Homo sapiens: one gene and its partners. The protein of the gene in region 3 purifies or fractionates together with the protein of the main gene of each other region. This does not show direct contact. Each region holds a gene or a part of one and is shown on either strand. Other genes may lie near its edges.

Region 1 (3,500 bases), on a different chromosome or scaffold from region 3:
AAGTGATCCACCTGCCTTGGTCTCCCAATGTGCTGTGTACTCAGTGGACCTTTTCAGTCTGGAAACTCATGTTTCTAGGACATTTTCCTGAATGCTTTGATATTTTTCTTTTTCTTTTTTACTCTTTTTTCTCTTTTTGGAAATCCTGGCTGCTGGTACTTTGGGAACCAAGTAGGAGAAGAGGACCAAGGGCTCAATCTTTAATATTTCCTTTACTGAATCACCTTTGTGCCTGGGGGTTCCAGTCCAGAGACCTACTGTTTTATTGTCTGCTAGGGTAAACCTCCAGTCCTCCACCTGGAGGAACAGGGGAGGAGTAGGTCACTGGTGCAGCAGAGGGGTAAGGAATATGGGACTCTGACTGCTTCTTAAGTAGATTTTCAACCCACCTTCACCCCCACTTCCAGAGGTACCTGGTGCCATCAGTTCCTGAGTCCTGAGTACTTTGTAGTTTCTGCAGTGCAGCTTGGTAGCTTTTGTGCTTTCCCTCTACTGGTTTAGAATTCAGTTTCCTTAAGCCTGATACATCAGTTACTTGTTCCTTTGTTTTCCAGCTTTCACAATGTGTTCTGTGTTCTTCTCATTTTCTTTGTCTTTATGGGAGAGAGAGTGGGGATTGAGTTAAATGTATGTGTTCAATCTGCCTCCTTTAACTAAAAGTCCTTGGATCCCTTTCATGTGCATTTTTTTCCATGGTTGAGATCCTGCTGTTCTTCCAGTTTGATATTCAGTTTTTTCACTTAATTTTATAACAAACAATTTCACCGTCATTAAAAATCATTTCTGAATGTTATTTCAATAGCTAAAGTTGCATCATATGGACATGCCACTATTTATACTGTTTGCTTTATTAGTCTGCTATTGTTGAGTATATAGACTGTTTTTTGGTTTTTATAAATAATGCAAAAATAAATAAAGTCATAATATTTTTCTGATAATTCTGATTATTCATTAGGCTAAAGCACGATTTGGCAAACTAGGACTCAGAGTCCACCCCTGGCCCCTTGGCTTGCCATGAACTAAAAATGTTCCATACTTTTTTTTTTTTTTTTTTTAAAGTGACAGGGTCTTACTCTGTTCAGGCTGGAGTGTACTAGCTGTGATCATAGCATAGTGCAATCTTAGACTCCTGGGCTCAAGCAATTCTCCCACTTCTGCCTCCCGAGTAGGTAGAACTATAGGCATGTACCACCATGCCCAGCTAATTTTTAAAAAATTTTTTGTAGAGAGAGAGTCTTGCTATATTGCCCAGGCTGGTCTTGAACTCCTGGTCTTAAGCAATCCTCTCACCTCGGTCTCCCATAGTGCTGGGATTGCAGGAGTGAGCCACCTCCCCAGAGGTTTCTTACATTTTTCAAGAATTGTAATAAAATGAAGAAGAATGTGCAGTAGACCACATGTGGCCTGCAACACCTAAAATATTTATCTGGCCCTTTACAAAATATTTTGCTGACCCCTGGGCTAGAGATTTAGGTAAATACTAAACCATTAAGTAATAATTATAGTATACTCCAGAAAGTTAAAGTATACCTCATGGCTTGCTAGTTTGGATAACTGGTATGTGTGTGACTGCATACTTTTTTTTTTTTTTTAATGCACTTACAAATATATACATGTGTGTCTAGATATTTAGTTTTTTTTTTTTTTTAAATAGGCTTCCTCTATACTCATAGAACCACCACTTAAAACAATATAGAACAGACATCCTACCGTGTTTCTTACATGAGGATCTATCTCATTCTTTTTAATGGCTGCATAGTATTCAATAGTATGGATTTACCATAATTCATGTAATCATTACCAAATTGAGGATATTTGAGTTATCTCCAGCTTTTCACAATTAAAGTAATGCTGTAGTTAACATGCTTTTACATTTATCCCTGCACATTTGTTCAAGTATTTTTGATAATTTTCCAGAAGAAAATTGTTGTGTCAAAGTATATGTACAAAATACATGCTAATTTGCTTTCTAATTTACCCTGAGAGTACCCCTTTTCCATATCTTTTCTAATACTAGATATTATTTGTCTAACTTTTAGCAATTTCTTAATTTTAATTTCCTAATCATTAGTGATGTTGAACGTCTTTTCATGTGCTTACTAGCCATTTACAGTTCTGTAGATTGCCTGTTATAGACATTTCTAAGGCTCTTGACAAGTACAACCATATTTTTTCAAAAAAACAGTTGCTCTCATTTGTATTTCCCCAGGATTGTACAAGAGTGTCTTTGTCACTACATATAAAATTTTGGAAACATTTTGATCTCAAAACTTCTCTCTTTTACTAAACGGTGTTTTGTTAGGCAATTTTCGTTCTGCTCTCAATGATGTGACAGCTGCCAGAAAGCTAAAACCCTGCCACCTCAAAGCAATAATAAGAGGTAAGTCTTGTGGAACTACAGTATGACATTTAAAGCTTTGATATGAAGGTGCTAGGATACTAATAAAGTCATCTTATTTTTGCAGTCTGGGTATTAAGTTCCTGTTCCTTATCAACAGCAACATGCCACTTTTAAAAGAATTCCTCAGAGAGTGACTTAACCCTTTATGTAATAATAATTTGTAGAGAACTAGAAGCCCCTCATTTTAAATTAATAAAAAATAAAATTAATTAAAACAAAGCAGTTGCAAAGCCATATTCTGATTTTTTTTCCAAATTAGCTGATTGAAAGGCAAGGTCTTCAAATGCCATGTTAATGTTAATTAAAAGATAAGTTATGGGACCTTTGCTGATGACTTTGGTGCTGAGATGTTCTCAGATTATGTTTTCTCTTGTAGTCTGACCTTTCTATGTAATAACAGTGCTTTTATTACTTTTATACTTCACCTTTTCTTTGAGAAGCTCATAGGTGCTTTGCAAACTTTAATTTATTCATCACATATTAATCTTCCCTGCATCCCCATGGACCAGCTTAAAATGCTTTTTCAAAATTATGCCTCTTTAAATGTTCATGGTTAAGGGCAGTAGGAAGATCCATGTCCCTCAGCTGTAGGAAAAGAAGGTACTGAACAAAGATTGGCTGATAAATTGAATCTAGGTAATCCTGTGGAATTTGCCTCAGGCTAGAAGTGTGTAATCCTTGATTCAGTTGTTGGTTTAATTTACAATGTGACCTTGGCAAGACACCCACTTTGAATATCAGTTTGCTCATCTCTAGAAGATGGGGTTAGAATCTGTTGGCATCTAAGCCCTTACAATGCTTATATTTTGAAATTCTGTGGAAAACCTAAAGAGGCTAACTGGAGAAAAATGTACATGATAACATGAAATTTTTTTTTTTTTTTTTGATGGGGGAGAGGCAGCTTAAACTGGTAGCCATAAAGAACAAAATTAGGAGACACCTAATGTTTTTGGCCTTGCCACTGCCTTGATGAATAGCTGAAGCAAAGTCTGCTTTTTCCCTCCATTGAAAAAATCATCTGGGATGGACTTTATTCTTCCTGTTTGCAGATGAGGAACCTAAAGCTTGGATATGCTTGGTCCTTTGTCTAAGGTCTAGC
Region 2 (3,732 bases), on a different chromosome or scaffold from region 3:
ATACATACATAAGAGAAAGACTAGTGGTTGCCCAGGGCTCAGAGGGGATGAGGAGTTTGGGATAATGGCTAAGGGTATGGGGTTTCCTCTTATGGTGATGAAAATGTTCTAAACTTGATAGTTAGACAACTCTATTAATATAGGAAAGATCACTGACTTGTACACTTTTTTTTTGAGATGCAGTCTCACTCTGTCGCCCAGGCTGGAGTGCAGTGGTGCAATCTCGGCCCACCGCAACCTCCGCCTCCGAGGTTCAAGTGATTCTCCTGCCTCAGCCTCCTGAGTAGCTGGAACTACAGGTGCGTACCAGCACGCCTGGCTAATTTTTGTATTTTTAATAGAGACGGGGTTTCACCATATTGGCCAGGCTGGTGTCGAACTCCTGACCTCGTGATCTGCCCACCTCGGCCTCCCAAAGTGCTGGGATTACAGGCGTGAGCTACTGTGCCCGGACCAAAGCTGTTATTTATTTATTTATTTATTTATTTATTTATTTATTTATTTATTTTTGAGATGGTGTCTCGCTCTGTCGCCCAGGCTGGAGTGCAATGGCCCGATCTCAGCTCCCTGCAAGCTCCACCTCCCAGGTTCACGCCATTCTCCTGCCTCAGACTCCCGAGTAGCTGGGACTACAGGTGCCTGTCACCATGCCTGGCTAATTTTTTGTTTTTTAGTAGAGACGGGGTTTCACCGTGTTAGCCAGGATGGTCTCGATCTCCTGACCTCGTGATCCACCCGCCTCGGCCTCCCAAAGTGCTGGGATTACATGCGTGAGCCACTGTGCCCGGCCAGCTGTTATTTTTAAAAAGGATTATAAAAGTTTTACAAACTTGCGTGAAAACCATTACTGAAAGCCTAAAAATCGTGGCTACAGGGCTGGCATTTACTTGCAGATATAATTTCGTTACCACTGAACAAGGAATCTAGGGTAGGATCACTTCACATATAACAAAGTGTTAAATACTGGAAAGAAAGAATTTTTACCTTCAGAGAGGAAATCAGGCATTTTATCACATGGTTTGCCCTCCGGGGACAGCAAGGTGCTTAAAAAGCAGCAAGGAGGCAGGAGAATCCCTCAAAAGGTGGCAAAAGTTAGCATTCAGGCAGAGTTCAGTCCTTTACTATTGGTGACACACTGGACAGGACTGTCCACTCACAGGCCCCCAGGTCATGAGCCTTAAATCAAGTGCATGTCGGACCAACTCTAAGGAATGCAGCCACAAAATTTAAAAAGCTGCTGACAGCAAAATTCACATTGTCCAGTACTGGATCAATTCACATTTTAGTTACTAATTCAATTTGCAAGGATTAAATAAAAACCAGCAAGATTGAGATAAACATTGCCAAAAATACAGTATTGCTTAAAAGTGCTTAGAAATGAGTTCTTTCACCTATAATTCATTTTCATCTCATTTACTCTGCTCTGTGCATAGGGATAAGGCCTTATTGTGAGCAACTGAGATCACTGAAATAAGCTCTCAGCATCCAAATAAAGCACAGAATCTATACAGAGACAGGCTAAGATGTTGCTTTTGGGTTTGATGAGCCAAGGGAGAGCCAGCTGGGCAGCAAGCCCTCCCCGTGGCCTCTGTCCTCAGAGGTCCTCACCATTCTGAACTCCTATGGTAGTAGTAGCCCTCTATGGAGGCTGCTGACTTCTGAAAGCAGATGTAGTAGAACCCGGCAAAAGAAGCACCACTGATGTCTTTGATCGTGTGATCTGGGACCAGAAACTGTTCCTGCACACAGATGAAGAGGGTCAGTAACAGATAGCATTCTCTGACCACCCACGGGGCCTCCCTGTTAAGCATCAGGGGGTTCTAAGGACCACTCGAGAAAAATATAGGATCTCATAGTCTAACCTAGACTTGCTGGGTGATGGCGGGCCCGTGGGGTCTCAGCCTGACTTCTAAAAAGCGTCCATGTGCTCCTGGAGTATTCTATATACTAAAGTGACAAACTGTGTCTTGAGCTCACTAGGATCAGCAATTCAGAGAAGGTACCATGGCCGAAACATCTAATATATAAATCAATACCTACTCACCTGCCTGTCTGCCTGCCTCTCTATCTTTCAGAGACCACAGACAATCAACCTGGGAAGAGCGAAGTTTCTGCTCCAGTTCTCAGAACTGTCAACAGATGCTTGATAACATCTAGAACAGTGAGTCGCTTCTGTAGGTCTGTGGACCATTCTGAGTGCAAAGCAGTTGCCAGTAGCCCCTGTGACACCCCCTCCAAGAGCTTGACGCCTTGTCAAAAGCAGTCAGAACGGTACTGTTCTTTACCAGGGACCTTAGGAGAGAGGCAAGCTTGCCACCTCTGCTGGAGCTGAAAGCTGGAAACCCAGGTCCTGGCACCTACTTTCCCAGAGAGATGAGGTCAGAAGCTCCAGGGCCTCAGGTGGTCTACTAAAGGACCACAGATGAGCCACTCTGAGACATTCTTTGGAGGCAAAACAAGCCCATTGCTTTTTAAACAAATTTAAGACACCCTCCCATTCCTTATTCAACTTCTAAAATTGTGGCTTTTAAAATTAATTTTAAAATTCAGATCGGGTGTGGTGGCTTATGCCTGCAATCCCAACACTTTGGGAGGCTGAGGTGGGTGGATCACCTGAGGTCAGGAGTTTGAGACCAGCCTGGCCAATATGGCGAAAACCCGTCTCTACTAAAAATACAAAAAATTAGCAGGGCATGTTGGCGGGCACCTGTAATCCCAGCTACTTGGGAGGCTGAGGCAGGAGAATTGCTTGAACACGGGACGGGGAGGTTGCAGAGAACCGAGATCGCGCCATTGCACTCCAGCCTGGGCAACAGAGTGAGACTGTCTCAAAAAACAAACAAACAAACAAAAAAACCCAAAAATTAGCCAGGCGTGGTGGTACGCGCTTGTAGTCCCAGTTACTCAGGAGGCGGAGGCAGGAGACTTGCTTGAACCTGGGAGACGGAGGTTGCAGTGAGCCAAGACTGTGCCACTGCACTCCAGCCTGGGCAACAGAGTGAGATTCCGTCTCAAAACAAACAAAATTCAAACAATAAACTTCCTTTAACAGGTTGTTTAGTTGACATGTTTCCCGCTAGATGGCAAGCTCGTGAGCATACTGTTCCCTGTTTACTCTCTGCATCTGGCAACCTACTGGAAGAGTGGTGATCCCCACTTCTTTTTTTTTTTTTTTTTTTTTTTGGTGAGACAGAGTCTTGCTCTGTCACCCAGCCTGGAGTGCAGTAGCGCAATCTTGGCTCACTGCAACCTCCACCTCCTGGGTTCAAGTGATTCTCCTGCCTCAGCCTCCCGAGTAGCTGGGATTACAGGCGTGCACCACTACACCTGGCTAATTTTTGTATTTTTAGTAAAGACGGGGTTTCACCACATTGGCCAGGCTGGTCTCGAACTCCTGACCTCGTGATCTGGCTCTCTTGGCCTCCCAAAGTGCTGGGATTACAGGCATGAGCCACCGCGCCCAGTGATCCCCATTTCTTTTTTTTTTTTTTTTTTTTTTGAGATGGAGTCTTGCTCTGTCGCCAGGCTGGAGTGCAGTGGCGTGATCTCAGCTCACTGCAACTTCCATCTCCCAGGTTCAAGTGATTCCCCTGCCTTAGCCTCCTGAGTAGCTGCGACTACAGGGGCATGCCAACATGCCCGGCTAATTTTTTGTATTTTTTAGTAGAGATGGGTTTTCACCATGTTGGCCAGGATGGTCTCAATCTCTTGACCTCATGATCTGCCTGCTTC
Region 3 (2,732 bases):
ACCCGCGTGCGCTCTGCTGTCCTGCGTTCCGGAGAAGGCTGTCTGTGTCTTCCCTGCCTGCTGTCTGCTGGGAGTGCACTCTCCTGCACTGTTTTTCCCCGACCAGGGCCTGGGGTGCACCCCTCACGCAGGAGCCGCTCCCGCCTGCCTCTGCCTTTCTGGGGGGTGGCAAAGTCTCTTTCGCAGCCCTGCCCTCCTCCCTCACCCCCTCCCGAGGCAAAGTTTCTCTGCCCCCAGTGGATTGACAGCTGGCGCAGATGGCCAGGGTCTGGGGCTGGGGGTGAGGCCTGCAGATCACCCCCTTCTGCACAAAGACCCTATGGGAGTGGAGAGTGGAGGGGCCCTATAGGCTTGCGCGGGGATGGAGCCCACGTTTTAGAGGGAAAAGCTGTGGGCAGCGTCTGATGGGCATCCAGGCACCGCCCTGGCCGTAGCAGCAGGTGGCACGTGCTGGCCAGTGCCCTCCTGAGCTGGCCCTGCGCGTACTGGCCAGTGCCCTCCTGAGCTGGCCCCGCGGATGACCAGGACGCTGTGCCATTGGCTAGCCCCTACCTGCCTCCTCTCGTGTCCTCCGGGGCCCCCATGCAGAAGCAAGTACAGACTGTGAAGGGGGTTCTGCAGCTTTATTCACAGGCCCCAGGGGATGAAGGCAGCAAGGACACAGACGCGGGGGACGCCCCGGGATGGCCTCTCCACCCCCAGGACTGTCAGGGAGCCCCTGACAGGATTGTGGGGGCTGGAGGATGTGGAGTCCCACGAGCGGCCCTGGTGTGCAAGAGGGCGGAGGGTCTCTGCCTCGAGGGGCCTTTCTGGCCTCTCTACTTCCAGCGCCCGCCGACTTTGCCCTTGGCTGGGGTCCCAGCCTTCTTGCTGCTGCAAATGGGAAGCAAGTGATCCTTCAGGGTCAGGGCCTCTGGCCATGCCCCTCCTGGTCCCCCACCCTGGGCGGACTCTCAGCCCGACCCCAGGCTGCTCTCAGGGCACAGGCCCGGCCCAAGCTTGCGGCCCACACCCAGCTTCAGTCCGGGCAGTGCCCACTCACCTGTGCCTGGCGGGCCTAGGTCGTTAGTGTGGTTAGGGGGCTGGCACGTGAGCCCGGGGCACCCTCCCTCTGTCCTCCTTTCTTTGCCTGAGGTACCACTGCAGACAGACCCCTGAGCTGGGGAAGACTGTCTTAGCAGATAATGATATAATCCTAGACGCTTGGCCTTGAAAGAGCTCATGCCCCTCCAGACGGTGGCCTCTGAGGGGCCCAGGAGCCTGCCCCATTTGTCTGAGGTCTTCATGTGGCCACGAGCCGGGAGGAGCTGGGTGCGGGTGAGGGGTGAAGGCGGGTGGAGGACAGGAGTGCTTCGGCCCGCGAGGCCGGCCCCATTCAGACGCGGCTGCTCAGCAGGACACCTGGCTGGCAAAGGCCGTGCCCTCACACACGTTCCTGGGCACTCTCGGCACATGCACACATGCACACACGCAGGCACATGCACACCACGCCGACTGCCCACCCTCAGAGGGGTCTGCAATGACCCCTGACGGCACAACAGGGAGGCCGTGAGGTCACGTGCACCACGGAGGAGCCCGCCCTGGGCGCCGCAGGGAAGCCAAGGCGACAGGAGGAGGGAGAAGAATCCCAGAAAACATCGAAACTCCAAGTAGCCCCCAAACACTGCGATCCTTGGGGAAATGGCACTGGCTGTGCAGCTGGGCTCCATGACAGGATCCCCAGCGTGGCATCGCCGGGGGCACCCTGGGTGCAGCCCCATGCAGGTGGTCGAGTAGCTGTGTCAAGGGATCCCACAGCCCCCAGGGACACGATTTTATGGATGAGGTTTCACCATCCTGAGGAGTCCATGATTTTGCCCAGCGTCACAGAGGGGCTGGTGATGAAGCCCTGACTGCTTAATTCCCTGTCCTAGGTCCCCTTGGAGGGTGGGACACTGGCGGGATACCCTGGGGCCCAGGTTGGCCACACCAAAGGCCCCCCGAGTAGCCCCTTCTAGGGGTCCCCTGGCTGCCCTCTCCCTGCAGCCAGTGCCAGACTCGGGGCGAGGGCGTGACAGGCAAGCCCCATTGGGATCCCTCCTCCTGACTCTGCCACCCCCCAGGGCTCCCCTGCGTGCAGGAGAGGGAGGAGGCTCCGGGTCCCTGGCCACAGGCCTGCGCATGCTGGCCTGGGTGGCCTGGCCGGGTTAGTCTCGTTACTGCCCTGCCGAGGCCAGCCACCACCGGCCCTTGTTAGGGACTGGCTACAGCGGCTGGCCCCAAGGGCCCCTGTGCCCAGTGCGGAGCGAGGACGGCAGGGCTACTCACTGCTTCTGGGCCTGGTCAATGCGGCTCCTGAGCGTGGTGATCTGTGAACAACATGAGTGACTCACTGCGACGACCCGAGGGCCAGGCCTGCGTGTACTGGGTGAAGGCCTGTCTCCACCGCAGGGTGGGCTGGGCTGCGCGACCCAGGGCTGCTGGGCCCCCATGAGGGCTCCTCGGCTCCCTTACTGTCTCCTGGCTCCTTGTGCAGGGGGACACCGTCCCGTGGCCCCTGGGCTCATGCCTGGACTTACTCTCGCCAGCCTGTACTGGCCTGGACTGCCACACACAGCAGCCCGTAGCTGGCCACTTACCTTCAGCCTGCGGCAGGATGTGGGGCGGGGGGTACGGAGCACGGATGGGGCTGGGGAGGGGTTGCAGGTGAGGCCTGCGGACCCCTCCTTCTCAGCTCCAGCTCCCTTCAGCCG

The links.
Region 1: the proteins of TNNT3 (region 3) and TTC4 purify together in Homo sapiens (co-immunoprecipitation; one large-scale study listed by IntAct). This does not show direct contact.
Region 2: the proteins of TNNT3 (region 3) and GID4 purify together in Homo sapiens (affinity purification with mass spectrometry; one large-scale study listed by BioGRID and IntAct). This does not show direct contact.

Annotation. Positions count from the first base shown.
Region 1 is NC_000001.11:54,718,861-54,722,360, forward strand, and holds part of TTC4 (tetratricopeptide repeat protein 4), read left to right. Parts: intron 1-2,302; coding exon 2,303-2,380; intron 2,381-3,500.
Region 2 is NC_000017.11:18,059,852-18,063,583, reverse strand, and holds part of GID4 (glucose-induced degradation protein 4 homolog), read right to left. Parts: intron 1,740-3,732; coding exon 1,609-1,739; intron 1-1,608.
Region 3 is NC_000011.10:1,936,579-1,939,310, reverse strand, and holds the end of TNNT3 (troponin T, fast skeletal muscle), read right to left. Parts: intron 2,349-2,732; coding exon 2,308-2,348; intron 874-2,307; coding exon 819-873; 3' UTR 609-818; downstream 1-608. UniProt on the Homo sapiens protein: Troponin T is the tropomyosin-binding subunit of troponin, the thin filament regulatory complex which confers calcium-sensitivity to striated muscle actomyosin ATPase activity.